3 separate regions of the Homo sapiens genome follow, and regions 1 and 2 are each linked to region 3. The links come from fine-mapping of genetic effects on gene expression. A gene starts in region 3. Each other region holds a variant in brackets. All regions are shown on one strand. Distances are from middle to middle.

Evidence for each region.
Region 1: its variant is fine-mapped to the expression of LLGL2 in whole blood (TOPMed, PIP above 0.99).
Region 2: its variant is fine-mapped to the expression of LLGL2 in monocytes (Schmiedel 2018, PIP 0.95).

The regions. Positions count from the first base shown.
Region 1 is chr17:75,556,153-75,564,314 of GRCh38, forward strand. LLGL2 (LLGL scribble cell polarity complex component 2) reads left to right here. Exons shown (of 26, transcript NM_001031803.2): 4 at 2,003-2,084; 5 at 2,360-2,475; 6 at 3,100-3,258; 7 at 6,864-7,026; 8 at 7,179-7,311; 9 at 7,600-7,654. Among named protein-coding and RNA genes, the nearest start is that of MYO15B, 28 kb to the right of the region's middle. RefSeq lists enhancers at 767-1,703, 1,704-2,639 and a silencer at 6,036-6,330. The variant A/ACT (reference allele first, on the strand shown) is at 5,058.
Region 2 is chr17:75,571,366-75,579,536 of GRCh38, forward strand. It overlaps LLGL2 (LLGL scribble cell polarity complex component 2), which reads left to right. Exons shown (of 26, transcript NM_001031803.2): 18 at 302-418; 19 at 533-699; 20 at 1,649-1,913; 21 at 2,116-2,266; 22 at 2,587-2,615; 23 at 2,848-2,895; 24 at 3,088-3,130; 25 at 3,245-3,303; 26 at 3,506-3,844. The coding sequence ends at 3,513. Among named protein-coding and RNA genes, the nearest start is that of MYO15B, 12 kb to the right of the region's middle. RefSeq lists an enhancer at 5-174. The variant G/A (reference allele first, on the strand shown) is at 3,328.
Region 3 is chr17:75,521,444-75,529,614 of GRCh38, forward strand. LLGL2 (LLGL scribble cell polarity complex component 2) reads left to right here and starts at 4,254. Exons shown (of 26, transcript NM_001031803.2): 1 at 4,254-4,382. It overlaps TSEN54 (tRNA splicing endonuclease subunit 54), which reads left to right. Exons shown (of 11, transcript NM_207346.3): 7 at 1-67; 8 at 262-890; 9 at 1,832-1,892; 10 at 2,220-2,336; 11 at 2,819-3,292. The coding sequence ends at 2,969. RefSeq lists silencers at 3,620-3,719, 3,740-4,459, 3,776-3,960.

The sequences.
Region 1 (8,162 bases), 35 kb after region 3:
GTCCCCTCGCTCCCACTCGGGCAGGGCCTTGGGGTGGGTGAGATTTGGGGAGGGACATCTTTTCCTTCCTTGCCCGTGGGCTGTTGGGATAAAATGAGGGACTTTCCTGATTTCCAGTTTTGGACATGATTTTATTCCAAAATGGGGCAGGTATGGTTGATGGTGGAGCAGGCACCTGGGCATGAGTGCATCCCTGGTGGGATGCGACCCTGTCCTTTGCAGGAGGACAGTGAGGTTTGAAATGGACTGAGGAGATACAGGCTTATTTTGTCTCCTGTGTCCTTTCAGGACCCTTCATGTGGTCTGCTCCCTTTACTCAGTTTCCCCTCTCACCTATTCCTGGAGGTTTCAGGAATCCCCCAGTCCCGGGCAGGGGGTGAGGCTGCTGGGGGGCTCAGAGACCTGTTTTGCAGGGGTTGTATTGGTGGATCCAGAGGGAAGGACCTGACGCCCATGTCTCAGCCAGTGATCATTCAGTGAGTGGCTGGCTGGTGCGCCAGTAGCAAGGCCTAGGCCCTTCTGTGCCCCTGCCTCCCTCAGCTCCCCACCTCACCACCAGAAAAGCAAGTTACAGGGACCCCTCTTGTCGCTAGGGATGTTTTTAATTTAAAAAAATTTTTTTCGGCACTTTGGGAGGCTGAGGCGGGCAGATCACTTGAGGTCAGGAGTTCAAGGCCAGCCTGGTCAATGTGGTAAAACCCTGTCTCTACTAAAAATATTTTAAAAGTTATCAGGGCGTGGTGGCACATGCCTGTAATCCCAGCTACTTGGGAGGCTGAGATGGGAGAATCGTTTGAACCTGGGAGGCAGAGGTTGCAGTGAGCCAAGATTGTGCCACTGCACTCCAGCCTGGGCAACAGAGTGAGACTCTGTCTCAAAAACTTTTTTTTTTTTTTTTTTTTTTTTTGTGGAGACAGGGTCTTGTGATCTTGCCCAGCCTGGTCTTGAACTCCTGGGCTCAAGCAACTCTCTCGCCTTGGCCTCTCAAAATGCTAGGGTTACAGGCATGAGTCACTGCACTCCCAGCCTGCAGTTTTGTTTTTTAACCTATCTCGATAAGAATCAGAGGTGGACTGGCCCCAGGGCCCTATCCACAAGCAGAGATGGGGTGGCCTTGGGCCAGGAGAGCAGGGCTCGGCAGCTGTCTTCCAAATTCCACCCCCACTCCCACAGGCGGCAGAGAGTGGAGAGGGCTCTGCCTGGCAGGGACAGTCCTTCCCCGGCCTGAGGCTGGATGTTGTCCAGTTGGGTCATCTTTTATCCAGAGCACTGGTTCTGGCCGACTGGGGGCTCCCAGTGTTTTCAGAGATGAAAAACCGGATCAGGTTGGGCACCCCGCCAGTCTGATCTGTGCTCCCCTCAGGGCAGGGCCCAAGGGAGTTGAGAGATGAGGGACCACCTCCAATAGCTTGGCTGCCACCTCCAGCGGAGCCTGACCTCCCTCTTCCCCTCTGCCCGGTGTGGGGGAGGGGTATGGAGCACTCGAGTTCCAGGCTGGGCTGGTGTACACAGGGGGCCAGGGCCTTGCTGCGGGCTCAGCCTTCCCTCGGCTGGTTAATCATTGCCAGGCCACAGCCAGACTCTAGTTACCAATCCCTGGTGCCAAGACTAATGGGCCAAGGCTGTTGGTGATAGGCCCCCTGGGGTGCCGTGTGTTTTTTCACAGGTGCTACCAAGCGACAGCCAACATGTCTTTTGCAGCTCAGGATCAGGGTGGCAGCCTGACAGTTGCCAGGGTAGGGCTTCGCCTTTCTATGGAGTTGCTCCCACCGGCCTGACTGGGAAAAATCTCCCAGGGATCAGGTCACTGGCCTGGTGCCCCAGGGCCAGGGCTGCTGTGTCTCCTCCCCACCCTAGGCTCCATGCATGGGTCCTGCTGCCTCGGGGGAGGGCAGCCCCTCTCTGTGTTTGCATCATTGCACATGGGCCCCGAGGGCCTGGCACTCAAGGCAGGCAGGGGATGGTGTCCGACCTTCCAGAGCTTTCCTGAGCCTACTCCTAGCTACGGAGCCCCAGGCGTGGAGTTCATGGGGCTGCACCAGGAGAACAACGCTGTGACGCAGATCCACCTCCTGCCCGGCCAGGTGAGGGACCTGGGGTGGGACAGGAAGCCACTTCCATGCCCTCCTTGCCTTCACTGCTTCCAGCAGGGCTGGTGTGGAGAGGCTGGCATTCGGTGGCCCTGGGTTTGCTGCTGATGGAAAGACCTGGGACCCCCTCCCTTTCCACAGCTGGGGCTCATGGGCCACCCTGGGAGTGGCCAGGGGGTCTTTTAAACAACTGGGGCTGCGTGGCCCCAGTGTGTAAAGGCCTTGCCTGGGTAGCAAGACCACATGATCCCGTCGTGTGCCCTCGCCAGTGCCAGCTGGTCACCCTGCTGGATGACAACAGCCTGCACCTTTGGAGCCTGAAGGTCAAGGGCGGGGCATCGGAGCTGCAGGAGGATGAGAGCTTCACACTGCGTGGACCCCCAGGGTAAGGGCTCAATCCCCAGCCCCTTCCACTCCCAGCCCAGCCTGACCCTTGCCCTTAGCTCTGGAGTGGACTCACCCTTTGTGAGGCCTGTTGCGCCCCTGGCAGTGACTGGCATGCGTTTGGCCCGATGCATCGCCACACTCAGGTGCTCCGAGTGGAGTGGGCGGGGCTGCAGCCTGCCTCCTCCATCCACACCACGCCTCCTCCATCCGCACCCCACCTCCTCCATCCGCACCCCGCCTCCTCCATCCGCACCCCACCTCCTCCATCCACACCACGCCTCCTCCATCCGCACCCCACCTCCTCCATCCGCACCCCGCCTCCTCCATCCGCACCCCGCCTCCTCCATCCGCACCCCGCCTCCTCCATCTGCACCCCGCCTCCTCCATCCGCACCCCGTGTTATGCTGGAGGGTCCCTGGCGTCTTTCCTGCCTCCTAGCCCAGGCTCTCTGCCATCTGTCTCCTGTCTTGGCAGAAAGTGACCAATGTTTGTCCTGGCTTGAAATGTTATGACCTCATTAAAGGGCCTTATGGGCTTGTTTTCCGAGGAGTCAGGGGACCCCGTCCATGGCATCTCCCCTGCTGGGCAGTGGTCGGCTCACGGGCAGCTGTTCTTGTCACAGGGCTGCCCCCAGTGCCACACAGATCACCGTGGTCCTGCCACATTCCTCCTGCGAGCTGCTCTACCTGGGCACCGAGAGTGGCAACGTGTTTGTGGTGCAGCTGCCAGCTTTTCGTGCGCTGGAGGACCGGACCATCAGCTCGGACGCGGTGCTGCAGCGGTGAGCCCAGAGCCCAGCTGCTGTTAACTCCATCCCCTCAAGTTAGGCATGGCTTCTCCCCTTGGTCCCAGGACTCTGTCAGGAGCTGTCATTTCTCTGCTGGGAATTCCATGGGGCTATAGCAGGGGAGGCTCTTGGCTTCCTACCTGTCACCTACTGAGAACCTATTGGCCTGTCATAGGTTAGCATCATAGCACTAAAAAGGGGGCTTTGAGGGTCCCTCGTCTAAAGGCCCCAAATGACTGTGTAATGTCACCGACTGTCAGTCCAGTGTCCTTTGCACTTGCCATGGGTTTCAGAACCCCAGGGGCTCCGCAGCGGGGAAGTCGGGCCCAGACCTCCCTGTGTCACTGGGGCAGCTCCTGGTGCCACCCTTTGCGGTGGGTACTTTGCTGAGGTTCCATTTGCTCGCAAGCTCCGTGGCTAAAAAGCCTTGACCGCCACAGGCATGTGGGTCTGTTGAGATCGTTTCAGAAGCTTTGCTCCTTGTTGATGATACTACATTAGAGAGGGAGTTGGATCAGGTCCGGGTGGGAGAAGGGGACGGGGCCCAAAAAAAGAGAGGAGATAGCATCTGACAAGATCATGTTGGGGCCGGGTCGGTCATGGTGGAATGATCTGTGGTTCCAAGGGGCAGGAGGAGGCCAGGGTGCTGGGCCCCTGGCCCTGCAAGGCTTTGGACTGGGCCTGGGACACACTCCTGCAGCTGGCCAGCCCAGCTCTCCAGCCCTGGGTGGTGATGAAGCAGGGCCCGTCTGCCCAGGGCAGGGCATGACTGGGCTGGGAGGATTCCCACTTGGAGCTGTGTCCCTCTGAGTGCAGACCTCTGCCTTTCCCGTTCAGCAGGGTAGGGCTGGGGCAGTGTGTCCAAGGTCAGAGCAGAACACTTTGCAGGATGACAGGTACCACAGTGGGACACAGCCTGTGGGCAGGACGGCATGGGACCTGCGCCCCAGCAGGTGGCCACACCAGTGCCCAGCCTCACCCTGTAGTTAGCTGGCGGGAATCTAGTCGGCGGGGGGGCCCAAGTGCCCTGAGAGCCCCTCCTGCCAGTTTATTTATATTATATTATATTATATTTTATTTCATTTTTGAGATGGAGTTTCACTCTTGTTCCCCAGGCTAGAGTGCAATGGCACGATCTTGGCTCACTGCAACCTCTGCTTCCTGGGTTCAAGCTATTCTCCTGCCTCAGCCTCCCGAGTAGCTGGGATTACAGGCATGCGCTACCACACCCAGCTAATTTTGTATTTTTAGTAGAGACAGGGTTTCTCCATGGTGGTCAAACTAGTCTCGAACTCCCGACCTCAGGTGATTGACCCGCCTCAGCCTCCCAGAGTGCTGGGATTACAGGCATGAGCCACAGCGCCTGGCCCAGTTTGTTTATTTATTAAAAAAAAAAAAAAAAAAAAAAAAAAAAAACAAAGAAAAAACATTTTTTTTGAGAGAGTCTTACTCTGTCCCAGGCCGAAGTGCAGTGGCAAGATCTCAGCTCACTGCAACCTCTGCTTCCTGGGTTCAAGTGATTCTCCTGCCTCAGCCTTCCGAGTAGCTGGGATTACAGGTGCACGCCATCACACCCGGCTTATTTTTGTATTTTTAGTAGAGACGGGGTTTCACCATGTTGGCCAGGCTGGTCTTGAACTCCTGACCTCAGGTGATCCACCCACCTCGGTCTCCCAAAGTGCTGGGATTACAGGTGTGAGCCACCAGGCCCAGCCCCTTTTGGCAGTTTAAATTCTCGTCCTCTTGATGACACTTATCTAAGTTTTTAAAACGTGCAACCCTTTAGTCTCATA[A/ACT]CTGTCTCTGAGAAGTCTCTGTCCTAAAGATATAGGATAAGAATGATCATTGTAGGGCTGTTTTTAATGGCAAAAAGTTGGAAGCCCTCTAATTGTCTAACAATTTTCATCTGTGTAAGGACATTATTTGCATTTATTAAGAATATCTAGATGGACACAGTTGCTCACACTTTGGGAGGCTGAGGTAGGAGGATTGCTTGAGGCCAGGAATTTGAGACTAGCCTGGGCAACATAGCAAGACCCTGTCTCTCCTCACAAAAAATAAAAATTAGTTGGGCAAGGCGGCACACGTCTGCAGTCTCAGCTACTTGGGAGGTGGGAGGATCACTTGAGCCCAGGAGTTGGAGGCTGCAGTGAGCCATGATCAGGTCACTACCCTCCAGCCTGGGTGACAGAATGAGATCCTGTCTCTAAAAAGATTAAAAATTAGGCCGGGCGCGGTGGCTCACGCCTGTGATCCCAGCACTTTGGGAGGCGGAGGCGGGTGGATCACCTGAGATCAGGAGTTCGAGACCAGCTTGGGCAACATGGCGAAACCCCGTCTCTACTAAAAGTATAAAAAATTAGCCTGGCATGGTTGTGGGTGCCTGTAATCCCTGATACTCGGGAGGCTGAGCAGGGAGAATTGCTTGAACCCCGGAGGTGGAGGTTGTGGTGAGCCGAGGTCACACCACTGCACTCCAGCCTGGGCAACAGAGCGAGACTCCCATCTCAAAAAAAAAAAATTAAATATTGAATATTAAAGTCCCCTTCAACTCTCACTCTTGATTCAAATTCTAATGTCAGTGAGGTCAGTGCTAGCAGTAGATGTGCCAGATATAGATAATGTGGAGAGCTTGGGTTTAGTGTGGCTTGGGTCCAGGCTGGGTCCACTTCCCACATCCTTGCTGTTGGCTGTTGGTCCTGTGCCTGCTGCCTTGTGGTTTTTTTGTTGGCTGCAACACCTCCAGCCCTCACGGCAGCATTCCAGGCCTGGAGACGGGGCAGGGGTCAAGGCTCCAGGGCCAGGCCAACTCACACAGAGTTTTGTTTTATGGGGCTAAAAAACTTCTTTATTATTAAACACTCCCTTTTGCAAAAATGCACTGAATATGAATGTACAGTTTAACAGATTCTTGTAGAGCATCCTTGCAGCCTTCCTGCCGGGCATAGAAATAGAACTTTGATGCCCTCCGGAGGTCTTATGCACCCTTCCTAGTCAAGGCTCCCTCTTGCCCCCACATTGACTTTTCCAGAAGTCACTGCCTTGCCTTGCCTTATAATTGTACCGCCTGTGTTTACATCACTGGAGGTTGTGTCCATGTCTCTGTCTTGTTCTACATGCTGCCCTTCTCCCCTTGGTGACATGTCCTAGCCATCTTTCTTTCTTTTTTTTTGGAAATGGAGTCTCACTCTGTCACCCAGGCTGGAGTGCAGTGGCACGATCTCGGCTCACTGCAACCTCCGCCTCCTGGGTTCAAGCAATTCTCCCGCCTCCGCCTCCCAAGTAGCTGGGGTTATAGCCATGTGCCACCACGCCCAGCTAATGTTTTATATTTTTAGTAGAGACAGGGTTTTGCCATGTTGGCCAGGCTGCTCTCAAACTCCTGACCTCAAGTGGCCTGCCCACCTTGGGCTCCCAAAGTGCTGGGATTACAGGCATGAGCCACCACGCTCGGCCATCCACTGCGCCCAGCCCCTAGCCATATTTCTATGCTGGCACATGGAGCAGCCACCTCTGCATAGGGAGCCCCATGGCTGTGCCATGCTGGGGGCCATTCCCCCTGGTGGACGGCATCGGAGGCTCACGGCACTCCCCTCGCCCAGGTTGCCAGAGGAGGCCCGCCACCGGCGTGTGTTCGAGATGGTGGAGGCACTGCAGGAGCACCCTCGAGACCCCAACCAGATCCTGATCGGCTACAGCCGAGGCCTCGTTGTCATCTGGGACCTACAGGGCAGCCGCGTGCTCTACCACTTCCTCAGCAGCCAGGTAGGCAGTGCCCAGGACATGGCAGGCGCCATGTTGCTCTCCCAGGGCCCCAAGTGGCACATACACACTGTGCAGAGGCATGGGGTGCAGGCGATGGGAACGCCGCCTCGGTCCAGCGTGCTGCCCTCTGTCCCTCTCCTCTTCCTCCATAGCAACTGGAGAACATCTGGTGGCAGCGGGACGGCCGCCTGCTCGTCAGCTGTCACTCTGACGGCAGCTACTGCCAGTGGCCCGTGTCCAGCGAAGCCCAGCAACCAGAGCCCCTCCGCAGCCTCGTGCCTTACGGTCAGTGTTTCACCCGCCGGGCAGGGCCCACCCCCAGTGCCTCCTGGATTCAGGTGCAGGTTGCTCAATTCTGAAGCAAACTCCAGGGCCAGAGAGGGTAAAGGCTTTGTCCAAAGCCACACAGCAGGGTTCGCCTCACCCAGTTTCTTGGGGAACTTCTCGGAGCAAGATTCCCAAGCACAGGTCTACCATGTGGATGTGGCATGAGCTAGAGGGATCTGTGCCTGTGGGGACTGACACTTGTCTGAGAGTTTGAGGATCCGTTCAAGCCGATTCCTTTCCTTTCAGGTCCCTTTCCTTGCAAAGCGATTACCAGAATCCTCTGGCTGACCACTAGGCAGGGGTAGGTATCCATGCTGGTCCTCTTTCCTCTCCAGAGCCTTCCTGGAGGGCTAGAAAGGTCACTTAGGCCTCTGCCTGGGAAGTTGGTGCCAGTGAACACTCTCAGGTCCCGTGTTGGGGTCTTGGACACCAGGGAGGGGAGACAGGGTAGACGCTATTCACGTCTCTCAGCGGCCCAATTCCTGCCAAGTTCATTCTTGCTCCTTTCTTCCACCTTCCCAGAGAGACGGTACTGAGCAGCAGGTCTTAAACTCCTTTAGTTGGCAGCCCTGTTTCTTCAGACAAAATCACTCTGGGTGATGTTCAAACAGAATTGGTGGGGGCACCCAGCATGAGGCAGGAGTGGCTGCTGAGACTCAGAGCCCCCAGCCTGGATGCCCTCACCTTACCTCCAAGTCCTCCTGGGCTGTAGCAGTTGGAAGGAGATGGGGTCCAGTCTCCCCTGCTCCTGGGGACCTTGACTGAGTGGTGACTTTGATTGCCGGCCTGTGGCTGTTGAGGCTGTGCCA
Region 2 (8,171 bases), 50 kb after region 3:
AGCTTGCTTCTCTGTAAATGAGGAAGTGACAGCTTCCTCCTAGAGCAGCTGTGACGATCGGGGACAGCAGAGCCTGCTGGTCTCCAGATGACGTGTCTCTCCCTGGCTGGTTCTCCCCTGCTGTATCACAGCAAGGGCTGAGCTGACCTGGGATTGGGGTCTTCTATGTTGGGGCCTGTGTGGTTGTCAGAGAGCCTTCCAGCCTCTCCCAGGAGGGAAAACCTGGGAGTAAACCCTGGTTGCCCAGCTCCACCCGACTCCCACGCTAAGGGTCAGACACCCAAACATGGCTTCTCGGCAGGCTCCCGGCACTGCCCCTCGCTGTGGGCTGGCACCAATGGGGGCACCATCTATGCCTTCTCCCTGCGTGTGCCTCCCGCCGAGCGGAGAATGGATGAGCCTGTGCGGGCAGAGCAGGGTGAGTGCTGGGCAGGGAGAGCAGAGGGTGCTCGGGCTGCCTGGGCTGGGTCCAGGGAGTGGCTCCAGCCCTGCCACCCCCTCACCAGCCCCAACACCCACCTCCTCCCCCTAGCCAAGGAGATCCAGCTGATGCACCGGGCGCCGGTGGTGGGCATCCTGGTGCTCGACGGACACAGCGTACCCCTTCCCGAGCCCCTCGAAGTGGCCCATGATCTGTCGAAGAGCCCTGACATGCAGGGAAGCCACCAGCTGCTCGTCGTATCAGAGGAGCAGTTCAAGGTGCCACACGGGCAGCGGCGGGTCTCCCTGGGACTCCCCGGGACATCCAGGAGGCTCGGACCTTGGGCAAAAATGATGGCTGGGACTCAGTCTTGTTTGCAGTTGGTGTCTGAGGGGCTGCAGAAGTACAGGAAATAAGTGAGGGGGGAGTCTCGTGTGAGGACACTGAGGCAGGACAGGGGGCCAGGCGCGGTGACTCATGCCTGTAATGCCAGCACTTTGGGAGGCCAGATCACAAGGGCAGGAGTTCGAGATCAGCCTGGCCAATATGGTGAAACCCTGACTACTAAAAATACAAAAAAAAATAGCCCGGCATGGGCCAGGCGCGGTGGCTCATGCCTGTAATCCCAGCACTTTGGGAGGCCGAGGCGGGCAGATCACAAGGTCAGGAGATCGAGACCATCCTGGCTAACACGGTGAAACCCCGTCTCTACAAACAAATGCAAAAAAATTAGTTAGGCGTGGTGGCGGGCACCTGTAGTCCCAGCTACTCAGGAGGCTGAGGCAGGAGAATGGCGTGAACCCAGGAGGCGGAGCTTGCAGTGAGCCGAGATTGTGCCACTGCCCTCCAGCCTGGGCGACAGAGCGAGATTCCGTCTCAAAAAAAAAAAAAAAAACCAGCATGGTGGTGGACGCCTGTAATCCCAGCTCTACTCGGGAGGCTGAGGCAGAAGAATTGCCTGAGGCGGAGGTTGCAGTGAGCCGAGATCACACCACTGTACTCCAGCCTGGGCGACAGAGCAAGACTCCATCTCGGAGGAAAAAAAAAAAAATCCAGATAGGGAAGTCGGTGACCTCGGCATCCTCCCAGGCCATGTCTGTGCATCTGAGAGCCAAGGGTTTGTCAGGACACCGGGAGGCATGTGGGGAGGGGAGGGCCCAGCAGCAGCAGCACAGGGCAGGAGAACTGGTTTGGCCATGGGCATGAACAACCACCCCACGCCCCCAGGTGTTCACGCTGCCCAAGGTGAGTGCCAAGCTGAAGTTGAAGCTGACGGCCCTGGAGGGCTCAAGAGTGCGGCGGGTCAGCGTGGCCCACTTCGGCAGTCGTCGAGCCGAGGACTACGGGGAGCACCACCTGGCAGTCCTTACCAACCTGGGCGACATCCAGGTGGTCTCGCTGCCCCTGCTCAAGCCCCAGGTGCGCTACAGCTGCATCCGCCGGGAGGACGTCAGTGGCATCGCCTCCTGCGTCTTCACCAAATATGGCCAAGGTGTTTGAGCCGGGCTGGGTGGGTGTCGGGGCCCCGGGCACTGCACGGACGGGAAGGGTGGCCAGGGGTGTTGTGGCCACGGCCAGACTGGATGGGCCTTAAGCGGAGAACTGCGAGGGAGCACTAGCCCCTACTCCCCCAGGTGGGGAGGCAGCCTTGGCAGCCGCCAGGCCAGGCCGCTAGCATTGCCCCCACTCCCCAGGCTTCTACCTGATCTCACCCTCGGAGTTTGAGCGCTTCTCTCTCTCCACCAAGTGGCTGGTGGAGCCCCGGTGTCTGGTGGATTCAGCAGAAACCAAGAACCACCGCCCTGGTAACGGTGCGGGCCCCAAGAAGGCCCCGAGCCGAGCCAGGTGAGTGAAAGGGCCAGAGGCCTCTCCCGCCCCTCCCGCCCCTCCCTGCCCTCTCTGAGATACCGAGGCTCCCACTGCTGCCTGGCTGGAGGCACCTCCCCACGAGCTCAGCCCACCCTCCCAGGCTCCGGCTCTCCTTGCCTCTTTGCGTGCCCCTTGCCCCTGTGCAAGCTGGCAGTCCAGGGCAGGACTCAGTTTACCTCCCAGGCTCTCCGGCTCAGGACAGGCTGCGCCATTGACTTGTTCTTCATGGGACCAGGGCTCTCAGAGCCGGGCAGGGAGCCCGGGGGCCCTGGTCCTCACTGTCTCTTCCCCCACAGGAACTCAGGGACTCAGAGTGATGGCGAGGGTAAGACAGGCCTCCTGGGCTCATGCACACCTGGGCCACACCCGGCCCAGACCTGGGGCTGGACGGGAGGGAAGGGTCCCGAGTGAGCAGGTAGTGTTTGGGCTGGGAATAGAGACGGCATTCCTTCCAGCCCTGGGCCCTGGGCTTCCACATCCTGACCTCAGTAAGGAGAGAGAGAGCCAGGCCGAGGAGGGCCCAGGCGGGGCGCCCTGACCCGGCCTCTACCTTCCAGAGAAGCAGCCCGGCCTGGTGATGGAGCGCGCTCTGCTCAGTGATGAGAGTGAGTTGGGTGGGAGAGGGTGGGGCTGGCAGGAGGGGTGGGGAAGGGGGGTCAGGGTCAAGGGAGGCTGGGCAGGCCACTGCCCTGAGGCGGGGTACAGATCCATGGGCACCCACGGAGAAAGGGGGTGGAAGGGCTGTGGCTAGCCGCCCCAAGGGCCTCAGTGGGCCTCTGTTCCCACCCGGCCTGCAGGAGTCCTGAAGGAAATCCAGAGCACACTGGAGGGAGACCGCGGGTGAGGCACCGCCCAGGCCAGCTGGGGTGGGCCCGAGGCTCTGCCAGAGGGCTCAGGGGAGCGCTGAGAGTGGAGGTCCCTGAGGCCATGACTCCCCTGTCTTTGCCTGTGCAGGAGCGGCAACTGGCGTTCACATCGAGCCGCCGTGGGGTGCAGCCTCAGCAATGGCGGAGGTGGGGGCTCTGGGCTTGAGTGCA[G/A]CTGCCAACCGTGCTGGGAAGGGCTGGGAGGAAGAGCCCCGGCCCCACTCCCCTGGGTCCCACGGGGCTGACACGTGCCCTGATGACCAGGAAAGCACCATGTCTGGGCTCAGCGTGGGCGGCTGGGGCACCCCGTCCTGCCCAGGGTGATCTTGAGCTGTCCCTCTGTGTCCTTCAGCAGAGTGAGTGGCTGAGCGTCCAGGCTGCGCGATGAGCACACACTACTACTGATGGCCTTTCGGGGGTCCCTGCCCCAACCGGAGAGGCCGGTGCACAGGGCCCCGCCAGGGGCTGGGGGCATCCCGGCTTCCACAATGCAGCTGCTCTGGGCCTCGGGAGAGGAGAGACCCCAGTCCCCTGGGCTGCCCTTCCCGGGCCTCGTCTGTCTGGGTCCTTTGGTCAATGTTGCACAGTTTTTATTGCTCCCATCCCTTTTTGTAGTGGGCTGGGTTTTAAGTTATAAATGTTAACTGCCTCTGGGTGAAAAAGTTTTTAATAAACACCTATTACCTCTTGACTGGTCCACTACTTTAATATTTTAATTGTGTAGAAATTTTCCATGTGAATGGAAAGTGGGAGCCGGTACCCTGCCTGTCCCCCGAGGCTCCAGCCCTGGCCTGGGCCGGTGTCAGGAGAATCCACTTGGGGAGCCGTGTGAATCAAACTGCTTCGTTTTGTCTGAGCCCGGCGGTGCCTTCCCTCTGTGGGAACACATGGCAAGCACGAACCATCTTGAGTCTGCCTGACTTTTTCCCTGGGTCCTGGCCGCCCCTGGCTGGCCTTTCCCTACTGTCAGAAGAAGGACACCCACAATATCTCAGACCTGATGGCTTCCTCCAGACACCAGGGAGGACTGTGGGGTGCTGCTGAAGCGGGGCTGGTACCCAAGGAGAAAGGCCTTCCCCAGGGGAGGGGCTGGGTTATTTAGATTGGACATGGGCTGGATCTTTATTGACTCGTCTTCGTTGAGCACCTACTGTATGGCCAGTGCGTGGGGTTCTCCGGTGTCTGAGACAACTGTGGTTCCTGCCACAGTTGACACTGGTGAGAAATGCACCTGGGGGGTGACCTGAGAGAGAACCAGGAATTGCCAGAGAGTGTGGTAAGCAAGCAGATTGTTCCAGACAGAGGACAAGAGGGCTCACCGCCACTCCAGGAACTCGCTTGCCGTGGGAGGCAGTGGAGAGCGGAAGGTGGCTGGCAGGCAGGGCCGAAAGTGAGGCCAGACTAGGGAGGCCCAGTGAGGGCCAGGTGTGACAGGCGCCTGCTCTGCGTGAGCGAGGAAAGGCCCATCCAGAGGAGCTGGGTACAGGTGTTCCATCTGGCCATGTCCACCTCGAGATGGCCACTTGACCGTCCCTTGTTTCCCCAGGGGAGGGTGCAGAAAGACTTCTGAGATGAGCACCTCGAGAACTATGAGGAATGTAGGGGAGCAGTTCCCCAAAGGGAGAGGAACACCATGCTAGAAGAAGCAGGGAAGGGATGATGCCTGGCAGAGACCAGCCACAGGGGTGGGGGATACCTGGTGAGACACCTGTATCAGTCCCTTCCCATACTGCCATAAAGAACATATGCCATAAAGGTGGCTGGGCGCAGTGGCTCACGCCTGTAATCCCAACACTTTGGGAGGCTGAGGTGGGGCAGATTACTTGAAGTCAGGAGTTCAAAACGAGCCTGGTCAACATGGTGAAACCCTGTCTCTACTAAAAATGCAAAAATTAGCTGGGCGTGGTGGCGCGCGCCTGTAGTCCCAGCACTTTGGGAGGCCAAGGCAGACAGATCACTGGAGGTCAGGAGTTCGAGACCAGCCTGGCCAACATGGTCAAACCCTGTTTCTTCTAAAAATACAAAAATTAGCCGGGCGTGGTGGCGGGCATCTGTAACCCCAGCTACTCAGGAGGCTGAGGTGGGAGAATCACAAACCTGGGAGGCAGAGGTTGCAGTGAGCCAAGATCGCACCACTGCACTCCAGACCGGGCAACAGAACGGGACTCCATCTCAAAAAAAAAAAAGATAATGGTGATGATGCAAGTACCAGTGAATCAGAAAAAAACGGCAGAACCTGCACTTCTGTGGCACAGAGGAGCCTGGTGGCCACAGCACAGGTCTTGCTGATGAAATTGAACAAGAAGTCGAAAACACACAGCCCTGAAAATATCAGGAAGACTCCGAACATGAACTTATTTCCTTGCTGATTAGTGCTGAACTTTGAGCTTTGCTGTAAGTATGCTGTGCTTTGAAGTATTAGCTAATGTCGGTGTGCATATTTCAGTTTAAGGAAACATTCTCGGCCGGGCACGGTGGCTCACGCCTGTAATCGCAGCACTTTGGGAGGCCAAGGCGGGCGGATCACGAAGTCAGGAGATCGAGACCATCCTGGCTAACATGGTGAAACCCCATCTCTACTAAAAATACAAAAAATTAGCCAGGCATAGTGGCGGGCGCCTGTAGTCCCAGCTACTCAGGAGGCTGAGGCAGGACAGTGGGGTGAACCCAGGAGGCAGAGCTTGCAGTGAGCCGAGATCATGCCACCCCACTCCAGCCTGGGCGACAGAGTGAGACTCTGTCTCAAAAAAAAAAAAAAAAAAAGAAAAATATTCCCACTGGGAGTGTGAGATGAACAACAATTTGTATTGATGGGTGTGCAAGATGGAAGGACGTGGCATCTTCCTCTCTAGAAAGTGAACTGGAGGGGCCGGGAGCGGTGGCTCATGCCTGTAATCCCAGCACTTTGGGAGGCCGAGACAGGCGGATCACAAGGTCAGGAGATCAAGACTAGCCTGGACAACATGGTGAAACCCCGTCTCTACTAAAAATACAAAAATTAGCTAGGTGTGGTGGCGTGTGCCTGTAATTCCAGCCACTCGGGAGGCTGAGGCAGGAGAATCTCTTGAATCCGGGAGGCGGAGGCTGCAGTGAGCCGAGATCATGCCACTCCATTCCAGCCTGGGGACAGAGCAAGACTCCGTCTCAAAAAAAAAAAAAAAATGAACTGGAGGAAGCTGGGATCCCCACAGCCATCCAGGGCAAGGCGACGGTGGTAGGGAAATAGAGGCATTGAGGGGTTGGGTTGACAAGGATGGCTGCCAGATGGGAGGAGATGAGTGAGCGTGAGGGCTACCTGTTGCCTCCAAGGGCCAGGGAGGTATACAGCAGGCAACTGGATTTGTGGTCAGGAGATTTATTTTATTTGTTTTTTAGAGACAGGGTGTCACTCTGTCACCTAGACTGGAGTACAGTGGCATGAGATCATGGCTCACTGCAACCTTGACCTCCGAGGCTCAAGCAATCCTCCAGCCTCAGTCATCCAAAGTGCTAGGATTACAGTCATAAGCCACTGAGCCTGGCCACGGAAATTGATTTATTTTAGAGACAGAGTCTTGCTCTGTTGCCCAGGCTGGAGTGCAGTGGTGTGATCATAGCTCACTGTAGCCTGAACTCTTGGGTTGGAGCAAACTTGTAGCTGGGACCACAGGTGGGCGCCACCATGCTCAGCTAATTATTATTTTTTTTCAAGACAGCCTCATTCTGTCGCCCAGGCCAGAGTGCAGTGGCATGATCTCGGCACACTGCAATCACCGCCTCCTAGGTTCAAGCAATTCTCCTGCCTCAGCCTCCCGAGTAGCTAGGATTACAGGCGTTAGCCACCACGCCCAGCTCATTTTTGTATTTTTAGTAGAGACAGGGTTTCACCATGTTGGCCAAGCTGGACTCAAACTCCTGACCTTGTGATCCGCCTGCCTCGGCCTCCCAAAGTGCTGGGATTACAGGCGTGAGCCACCGCGCCTGTCCTACTTTTTTATTTTTAAATTTTTTGTAGAGACAGGGACTCCCTATATTGCCCCAGGCTGGTCTCAAACTCCTGGTCTCAAAGGATACTCCTGCCTCAGCCTCCCAAAGTGCTGGGATCATAGGCATGAGCTGCCACACCCTGCCAGTCTGCAGATTGAGATGTGAGGGTCTTGGGCATTCAAAGTGGTGGAGACCTGGTGTTCATTTAGCATTTGAGGCCAGGCAGATCCAACCCTGTACACTGGCTTTCACGTGACTGGCTGTGTGACCTTGGGTACATGACCTCACTCCCATACCTTGGTTTACTTATCTGTAAAGTGAAGGATAATAATAGGACTTACCTCAGAGGGTTGTAAAGGATTAAATGAGAGCCTGTAAAATCACACAGCACCTGATTCCTAGTAAACACCCAACCCTAGGAGGTGAAAGTTACTGTGGATGGTGGGTGAGGCCAGGAGAGAAGGAGATGGCTCCAGAGGGAGGGAGTGTGGAAGGAAGTCCAGAGAGGGCGCGGCACACAGCCCCAGGGAGGAGCTCACTATACACTGGTGAGCGAAGCAGGCAAAGGAAGTCAGTGGGAAAGTGGGAAGCAGAGGGGAGAGCCAGGCTCGGGGGTGTGGCCTGTCTCCCTGCATGTCAAGATTAGCCAAGCTGTTCCCTGAAGGTTGTTCAAGGTCATAGAGCCAGGAGGGTGGAGCACTGCAGCTGGGATGGGGGACCAAGGCTGTCTGGTTCCAAAGCTGATTCCAGCAGAAGCGCTGCGGAGCTCCACAGTGTGGGTTCAGCAGAAAAGTGGGTATTAAAGGCCAGAGGGCCTGGGCTTGGTCCTCAAGTCCATATTTAGTGGTTATGTGTCCTTAAGCTACTGGGTTTTTTTTTTTAGACAGTCTCGCTCTGTCGCCCAGGCTGGAGTGCAGTGGCAGTGATTTTGGCTCCCTGCCACCTACGTCTCCCGGGTTCAAGCGATTCTCCTGCCTCAGCCTTCTGAGTAGCTGGGACTACAGGTGCATGCCACCATGCCTAGCTAATTTTTGTATTTTTAGTAGAGATGG
Region 3 (8,171 bases):
TGGATGCCAGCGTGCAGCACTTGGAGGATGGAGATGGCAAGAGAAAGAGGAGCAGCTCCAGCCCTCGGTAACTCCCACATCACGGTGGCCCCCCAGGGAGTGCTGGTGTCTGGGACCTTGGAAAATGCACAGGCTTTCTAAGAACCAGCAGCTCCCATGCAGGCTCAGGGAGACACTAGGGGACCTGCCTTCAGCTCCCATGGGACGTGTGCACCTTAGCAACCAGGGGCAGATGTGCTGCTTTTCCCCCACGTCCCTCAGGTCCATTAATAAGAAGGCCAAGGCCCTGGACAACTCCCTGCAACCCAAGAGTCTGGCAGCCTCCAGCCCACCTCCCTGCAGCCAGCCCAGCCAATGCCCAGAGGAGAAACCCCAGGAGTCAAGCCCCATGAAGGGCCCAGGGGGCCCCTTTCAGCTTCTGGGGTCCCTGGGCCCCAGCCCTGGCCCGGCCAGGGAGGGGGTGGGGTGCAGCTGGGAGAGTGGCAGAGCCGAGAACGGAGTCACGGGAGCCGGTAAGCGGCGCTGGAACTTCGAGCAGATCTCCTTCCCCAACATGGCTTCAGACAGCCGCCACACCCTTCTGCGCGCCCCAGCCCCAGAGCTGCTCCCGGCCAACGTGGCTGGGCGGGAGACAGACGCTGAGTCCTGGTGCCAGAAGCTGAACCAGCGCAAGGAGAAGCTCTCCAGGCGGGAACGGGAGCACCACGCGGAGGCCGCGCAGTTCCAGGAAGATGTCAACGCCGATCCCGAGGTGCAGCGGTGCTCCAGCTGGCGGGAGTACAAGGAGCTGCTGCAGCGGCGGCAGGTGCAGAGGAGCCAGCGCCGGGCCCCTCACCTGTGGGGCCAGCCCGTCACCCCGCTGCTGAGTCCTGGCCAGGCCAGCTCCCCAGGTACCCCCTCAGCCTGCCACATCTTCGAGGGCCACTGGCAGCTGAGGAATCACAGGACTTTGGAAAGGGCATGGATGAACTGGGATGGATTGAGGCTTAAGGAAGATGTGGGAGGAGGGAGTGGACCCACAAGCACGGTCAGTTCTCCGGCGGCTGCAGCAGGGCCTGTGTGGGAAGGCTTAGAGATGGTGAGTCAGGAGAGGTAAGGAGGGGTGGAAACTATGACCATATCCTTAAAAAGATAAACAACATGCATGTGGATGGCTTTGCCACCAACTAGCTGTGATCCCAACCTGTTAGATGGGAAAAGGAGGTGCCTTCTTGGCCAAGTGAAAGAAAGGCTTGCTGTCTGCTCTAAGCCCAGGGAACCAATGGGGAAAGAATAAGCTAAATGTGTTAACGGATTCCAAATTACTTAAAGCCTTTATGGGAACACGGTAGATTGTAGGTAACTAGATAGGGTTGCCAGATCAGTTTGATTTGACTTTCAGTATAATTTTTCAGTATATGTTCCAAAAATTGCATGGGATATGCTTATACTAAAAAAAAAAAAAAAATGTTGCTAGGCTGGACACGGTGGCTCATACCCGTAATCCCAGCACTTTGGGAGGCCGAGGCGGGCAGATCACCTGAGGTCAGGAGTTCGAGACCAACCTGGGCAACATGGTGAAACCATCTCTACTAAAAATACAAAAATTAGCCGGGTGTGGTGGTGCACACTTATAATCCCAGCTACTCAGGAGGCTGAGACAGGAGAATTGCTTGAACCTGGGAGGCAGAGGTCACAGTGAGCCAAGATCACGCCACTATACTCCAGCCTGGGTGACAGAGTGAGACTCCGTTTAAAAAAAAAAGTTGCTAAATCTGGCCGTCCTAAACTAGATGGCAGACTGAGAAATGTGACTCCCCTCCCCAGTACCTTGTTTTCTGTGTCCTTGTAGCCGTGGTCCTTCAGCATATCTCTGTGCTGCAGACAACACACCTTCCTGATGGAGGTGCCCGGTAAGTTTCCAAGCAGTGCCGTCTCTGCAGTACCTTGACCGCCAGGAGTTGGTGGTTAGGAACTGGCTCCTGAAGTAGGGTGTAAACTAGAGGACTGTTCCAGGGACTCCTACCCCTACGCCTAGCTCTGAGCAATAACTAGTGTTCGTGTGTGTCTAGGGAAGAGGGAGAATAACCAGTGGGTTAGCCCAAGGGTTCAGAGCCCCCAACCCTCAAGTGGCACCTCTGTGAGGCTGCTTCCTGGAACTGGTGGAGGGAAAGGGTGGGATGGAAAAGAAAGGTTGGGGAGAAGAGTTCATGTCATAACGTTTCTCATTGTATTGTCAGGCTGTTGGAGAAGTCTGGGGGCTTGGAAATCATCTTTGATGTTTACCAGGCCGACGCTGTGGCCACATTCCGAAAGAATAACCCTGGCAAACCCTATGCCCGGATGTGCATTAGTGGGTACGCAGTGAGCCAGCACTGCCCCTCCCCCAGCTGCTGCCAGTTCTCCTGTGAACCAAGTGGGACTCCTCTGTACTCCCCTGGCCAGCGTGCCAATCTCTGAGAGGAACAGGAGGTCCAGAGAGGCTAAGTGACCTACACAAGGCCACACAGCCAGTTTGTGCTGCCCTACTCTGAGCTCCTCGTTGCTGGCATTTTAGGGTAGTCTTTCTCCAATGCCATTTTAGTCTAGGACTCACCCAGCAGAAGGGATGTGGATTGTGGGGATTTACAGGCTAAGAGTGGTGAGCACCTTGCTCTTCCTAGCACCTCCCCAACCAGTGCTCTGGGGCGCTCTTCATCAGAGCCCTGTGTTTTGGAGACAGAACTCATGGGTCAGAATTCTTGCACCCCAACTCCTTCCGTAGAATCTCTTCTCTGGGAGCCCTAGAGCTTAGGAGTGGGCTATGGCTGGGTCTCACTCTAACCCTTTGTCCCTGCAGATTTGATGAGCCTGTCCCAGACCTCTGCAGCCTCAAGCGGTTGTCTTACCAGAGTGGGGATGTCCCTCTGATCTTTGCCCTGGTGGATCATGGTGACATCTCCTTCTACAGCTTCAGGGACTTCACGTTGCCCCAGGATGTGGGGCACTGACCTCACAGCTCTGCAGAGGATGGAGCTTGCTCCGGGGGACCGGGACTGTCTGTTCTCAGGGACCATCTCGGCTGCCTCCTGTACCCAGACTCTAACCTGTAGCTTCAGAGGCCAGTCTGGGCCTTGGCCCTGGGTGTCTGATACTCACAGAGTGAAACTGTGACCCTCTCCCTTCCCTGCTGCCTTGCAGTGACCCCTCTGGAACTCAGGACTCGATTTTAAGGACCCAGGAGGTGGGGCAGAAGAGAGGACTGTGTGCCTTTAACGAGAGGGTGCCTGCTTCGTGCTATAAAGCCAAAGCCATTAAAAATAGATTTCTTTTCTGCTGTTTCTGTATGTACTGGGTAAACCCCTCTCGCCCCCGTCCCGTTGTCAGTGGAACTGCCCCCAGCCCCTCACCCCTGCTTTGCCCACTCAAGGAGATCCGCTTCCTCTGGTGCGGGATCTAAGAGTGAGAGAAGCCCGCGGGATAGCAGGAACGCGACCTCGAACCTTTTGAGCCTTTCCCGGGCCTGCGTCGGAGGGGATGGGACGTCGCAGGCTTCCCGAAGGGAGGAGGGAGGACGGCGCGCCATCGGCCCTTCCCTGGGCGCAGCGGGGTGCGGGTGGCGAGAGGCGCCACCTGCAGCTGGGCGGTGGAGCGCGCTGCAGCCCCGGCCTCCGCGCCCTTTCCGCTCCCGCCTCTCGTCGCTCCAACCTCCTCCCTCGCTTGTGCTAAAAATTCCACCCGCTGTTGCAGACCCTCCGGCCGACACGGAGGAGGTGGGCGCCCCCCCGCACCCCCCCCCGAGGAAAGGCGTCTCGCCGCGACGCCCCGGTCCCTACACCATCCCTCTCGTGGGGCTGGAAACCCGGCCCTGCGTCCCCCGGTCACCCTCTCTGGGCTGGGCTCTGGCAGAGGAGCTGGCCCGGATCCGCCCCTCCCTCGGCAGCTCCCGGGAGTTGGAGGGACGGCTCCCCTGGAGTCTGGGAGGCGGCCCGGGACCGCAGGCGTTCCGGGAACTATTTCCGCTTGCGGGAGGCGGCGGGACACTGGGCGCGGCGCGCCGTTCTGCGTCCAGGTGCGCGCAGGTGAGGCCGGGGCGGGCCTGCGGAACCCCGAGGCCGTTCGCGAGGCCCCGCCCCGCGCTTCCCGGGGCCGCGGATTGGCAGGAGCGCAGCCCCCACCCCCGAGGGTGCCCCCGCCCCTGCGGCGCCGAGCTGGGGGGCGGGCCGGGGGCGGGGCGCTGGGCCCCGGCAGGCTCGCCCTTTATGTAAATAGCGCGGCTCCGCCCCAGGCTCGCCGCGCCGGAGGTGAGCAGGAAGGAGACGGCCGCCCAGCAGCCCGTGGGCAGGCGCGGCGGAGCGAGCGGGGCCGGCGGCGGGCGCCGAGGGACGCCGAGGCCTCGGGCGGGGGCTGGCCCGGGGTTCCAGGTGAGATGCGTGCCGGACTCGCCCAGCCGGGCCCGCCCCCTCGGGGCTTCCACCTGGGGCGGGGAGGCCAGGGAGGCCCAGGACCCCTGGGCTGTCGGGCCAGGGCGGGAGGGCTGCGCCCAGGTCCGCGCGCCTCGCCCCTGTCCGCGTCGCTGTGCTGGCCTGGAAGAGAGACACCTGTAGAAAGTTCTGCGGGAAACTTCTCTGCCTGATCTGCGCGATGACTGAAACTTGGGCTTGGGTTTGCACAATAATGTTGGCTTAGGAGAGCAGGAGAACAGGTGCCCCGGCCGGCTGGGTGCGGGGGGCACCGCGGGCAGAGACGGAGTCCCCGGGCCCACGTGCAGGCGCCAGGCCAGCGGGGTTGGCGACGCGCGTCTGCGGTGACCCCCTCCCCACGGGCGGCGGCCGGAGCGCGGTGCCCCGGCGGCTTAGCCCCTGCCCCTGCCATCTGGGCTGTGTCCCTGCCGGCCCTTTGTGCCTCCTAATCCCCGGACGCAGGAAGCCCGCGGGAGGGACTTCGGTCTCCGGCCTTTCTCCAGCTGGGGCGGCTTTGGACACCTTCACATGACAGTGCGGAGACCCAGTCTGCCCTCCATGCTGACGGGCGGGGTTTGCGCTGTGGGATTTGGCGAGAAGTGGAAAATTCTATCTTGCCAAAGAAAGTGTGTCTTAGTTTGTTCCGGCTGGACGATTGGTGGACACGCTGGGCCTTGGCTGTGGGGAGAACTGACCTAACCAGGGGAGCTGTAGAGTGGCGCTTTGAGGCTCTCACCTGAACAGGTGAGCTTTGAGTGAGGAGGGCGCCCCTTCCCCTGGGGATCCGTATGCGACTGCCGGCAGCCTTAACCTGGGCTCCAGGGACCCCCTGCTGGAGTTTGTAGTTCAAGAGAACCTTGAGTTCTCTTGAAGGGGCTACAGAGAGGATTCTGAGCAGGGAGCGGGCAGGGAGGGAATGGGTGTGTCAAGGTGACAAGGAAACGCTGGTAGGAAGAGCAGAGCTGCCACAGAAGAGCTGTGGCCCAGCCCGGGGGAAGCCAAGGTCAGAAGTGGCAGTTGAGGCTGGGTGCATTGGCTCACAGCTGTAATCCCAGCACTTTGGGAAGCCAAGGCAGGAGGATCGCCTGAGCCCAGGAGTTTGAGACCAGCCTGGGCAACATAGTGAGACCTCGTCTCTGCAAATAATAAAAAAAGTTAGCCAGGCATGGTGGCGTGCACCTGTAGTCCCAGCTACTCAGGAGCCTGAGGTGGGAGGATTGCCTGAGCCCAGGAGGTGGAGGTTGCAGTGAGTCATGATGGCGCCACCACACTCCAGCCTGGGGACAGAGTGAGACCCTGTCTCAAAAAAAAAAAAAAAAAGTGGCATTTGAGGAAAACTGTCTGGGTCTGTGTGAGCAGAGGCACAAGGAGAACTGTGCGAGAGATGTCTCAGCTTTATTTTATGAACTGGGATTTGGGGTTTAGTTTTCTTAGGCGATCTTCCCACAGTGCTAGCTGTGGCAGACAGAACTCAAACTCAGCTCTTAAGCTTCTAATCAGAGTTCACTCCTTTCCTCTGAAGTTAGACTGGGCCCATCTTTGTGGGGGCTCCTGGACAGGGTTTCCGGGGTCCAGGGTCATTTGGCATCCCCATTCTTCCTTGAGGCAAGGGAGTTTCCCCTTTGGTGTCAGATTAATATGCTTTTAATTATATTAAAATGACACTACATTCATAAATAAGAAATAAAATAGAAAAAAGTAACTTTTTTCTCTTTTTTTTTCTTTTTTTTAAACTAAGTTGACCAAATTCTTTTTTTCTTTAATAATATGTTTTTTAATTTGTAGAGATGGGATCTCACCATATGTTGCCCAGGCTGGTCTCAAACTCCTGGACTCAAGTGACCCTCACACTTCAGCCTCCCAAAGCGTTGGGATTACAGGTGTAAGCCACTGTGCCCAGCTGTTAGTAACTTTTTTTTTTTCTTTTTTTGAGGCAGAGTCTTGCTCTGTCACCCAGGCTGGAGTGCAGTGGTGCAATCACTGGGAGATGGAGGCTCACTGCAGACTCGACCTCCCAGGCTCAAGTGATCCTCCCACCTCAGCCTTCTGAGTAGCTGGGACTACAAGCGCGCAGCACCATGCACAGCTAATTTTCTATTTTTTTTTTAGAAAGGGGGTTTTGCCATGTTGCCCAGGCTAGTCTTGAACTCCTGGGCTCAAGTGATCCTCCTGCCTCCCAAAGTGTTAGGATTACAGGCATGAACTGCCACGCCAGACCCGTTAGTATAAATAACTTTTTATTATTTTTATTTATTTATTTATTTATTTTGAGACAGAGTCTCGCTCTGTCACCCAGGCTGGAGTGCAGTGGCGAGATCTCGGCTCACTGCAAGCTCCTCCTCCTGGGTTCACGCCATTCTCCTGCCTCGGCCTCCCGAGTAGCTGGGACCACAGGCGCCTGCCATCACGCCCGGCTAATTTTTTGTATTTTTAGTAGAGATGGGGTTTCACTGTGTTAGCCAAGATGGTCTCGATCTCCTGACCTCGTGATCTGCCCCTCTCAGCCTCCCAAAGTGCTGGGATTACAGGCGTAAGCCACCGCGCCCGGCCTTAAATAACTTTTTAATATACCGCAACATTAAAAGAAAAAAAGGCCAGGCGTGGTGGCTTACACCTGTAATCTCAGCACTTTGGGAGGCCAAGTTGGGCCGATCGCCTGAGGTCAGGAGTTTGAGAGCAGCCTCACCAACATGGAGATACCCTGTCTCTATTAAACATATAAAATCAGCTGGCCATGGTGGCACATGCCTGTAATCCCAGCTACTCAGGAGGCTGAAGCAGGAGAATCGCTTGAACCTGGGAGGTGGAGGTTGCGGTGAGCCAAGATCACGCCATTGCACTCCAGCCTGAGCAACAAGAGCAAAACTCCATCTCAAAACAAACAAACAAACAAAAAATGGCCCATAATCCCAGGTGATCGCTGTTCATTTAAAAAATAGAAAAGGCAATAGGAGCCCATAGTGGGAAAAAGGAAACATTGTAGAAAGTGTAAAATTAGAGAGCAAAAAATTAGGCCGGGCAAGGTGGCTTATGCCTGTAATCCCAACACTTTGGGAGGCGGAAGCAGGCGGATCACAAGGTCAGGAGTTCGAGACTAGCCTTGCCCACACAGTGAAACCGGTCTCTACTTAAAAATGCAAAATTAGCCAGGCGTGGTGGTGAGCGCCTGTAATCCCAGCTACTCAGGAGGCTGAGGCAGGAGAATCGCTTGAACCCAGGAGGCAGAGGTTGCAGTGAGCCGAGATCGTGCGATTGCACTCCAGCCTGGGCAATAGAGTGAGACTGTCTCAAAAAAAAAGAGAGCAAAAAATTATCCCTCCTGCCTGACAGTCCTTTTCTTTTTTTTTCTTTGAGACGAAGTCTCCTCTGTCGCCCAGGATGGAGCACAGTGGCGTGATCTCAGCTCACTGCAACCTCTGCCTCCCAGGTTCAAGCAGTTCTCCTGCCTCAGCATCCTGAGTAGCTGGGATTGCAGGCAGGCACCACCAGGCCCAGCTAATTTTTGTATTTTTGTATTTTTTGTAGAGACAGGGTTTCATCATGTTGGCCAGGCTGGTCTTGAACTCCTGACTTCAAGTGATCTGCCTGCCTCAGCCTCTCAAAGTGCTGGGATTACAGGCATGAGCCACTGCACCCGGCCCCTGCCAGTCCTTTTATCTTCATCCTTCATCCTTCTATCCTTCATCTCTTTAAAAACAAAAAATAAAAAAAAATTAGGCCGGGCTCTGTGTCTCACGCCTGTAATCCCAG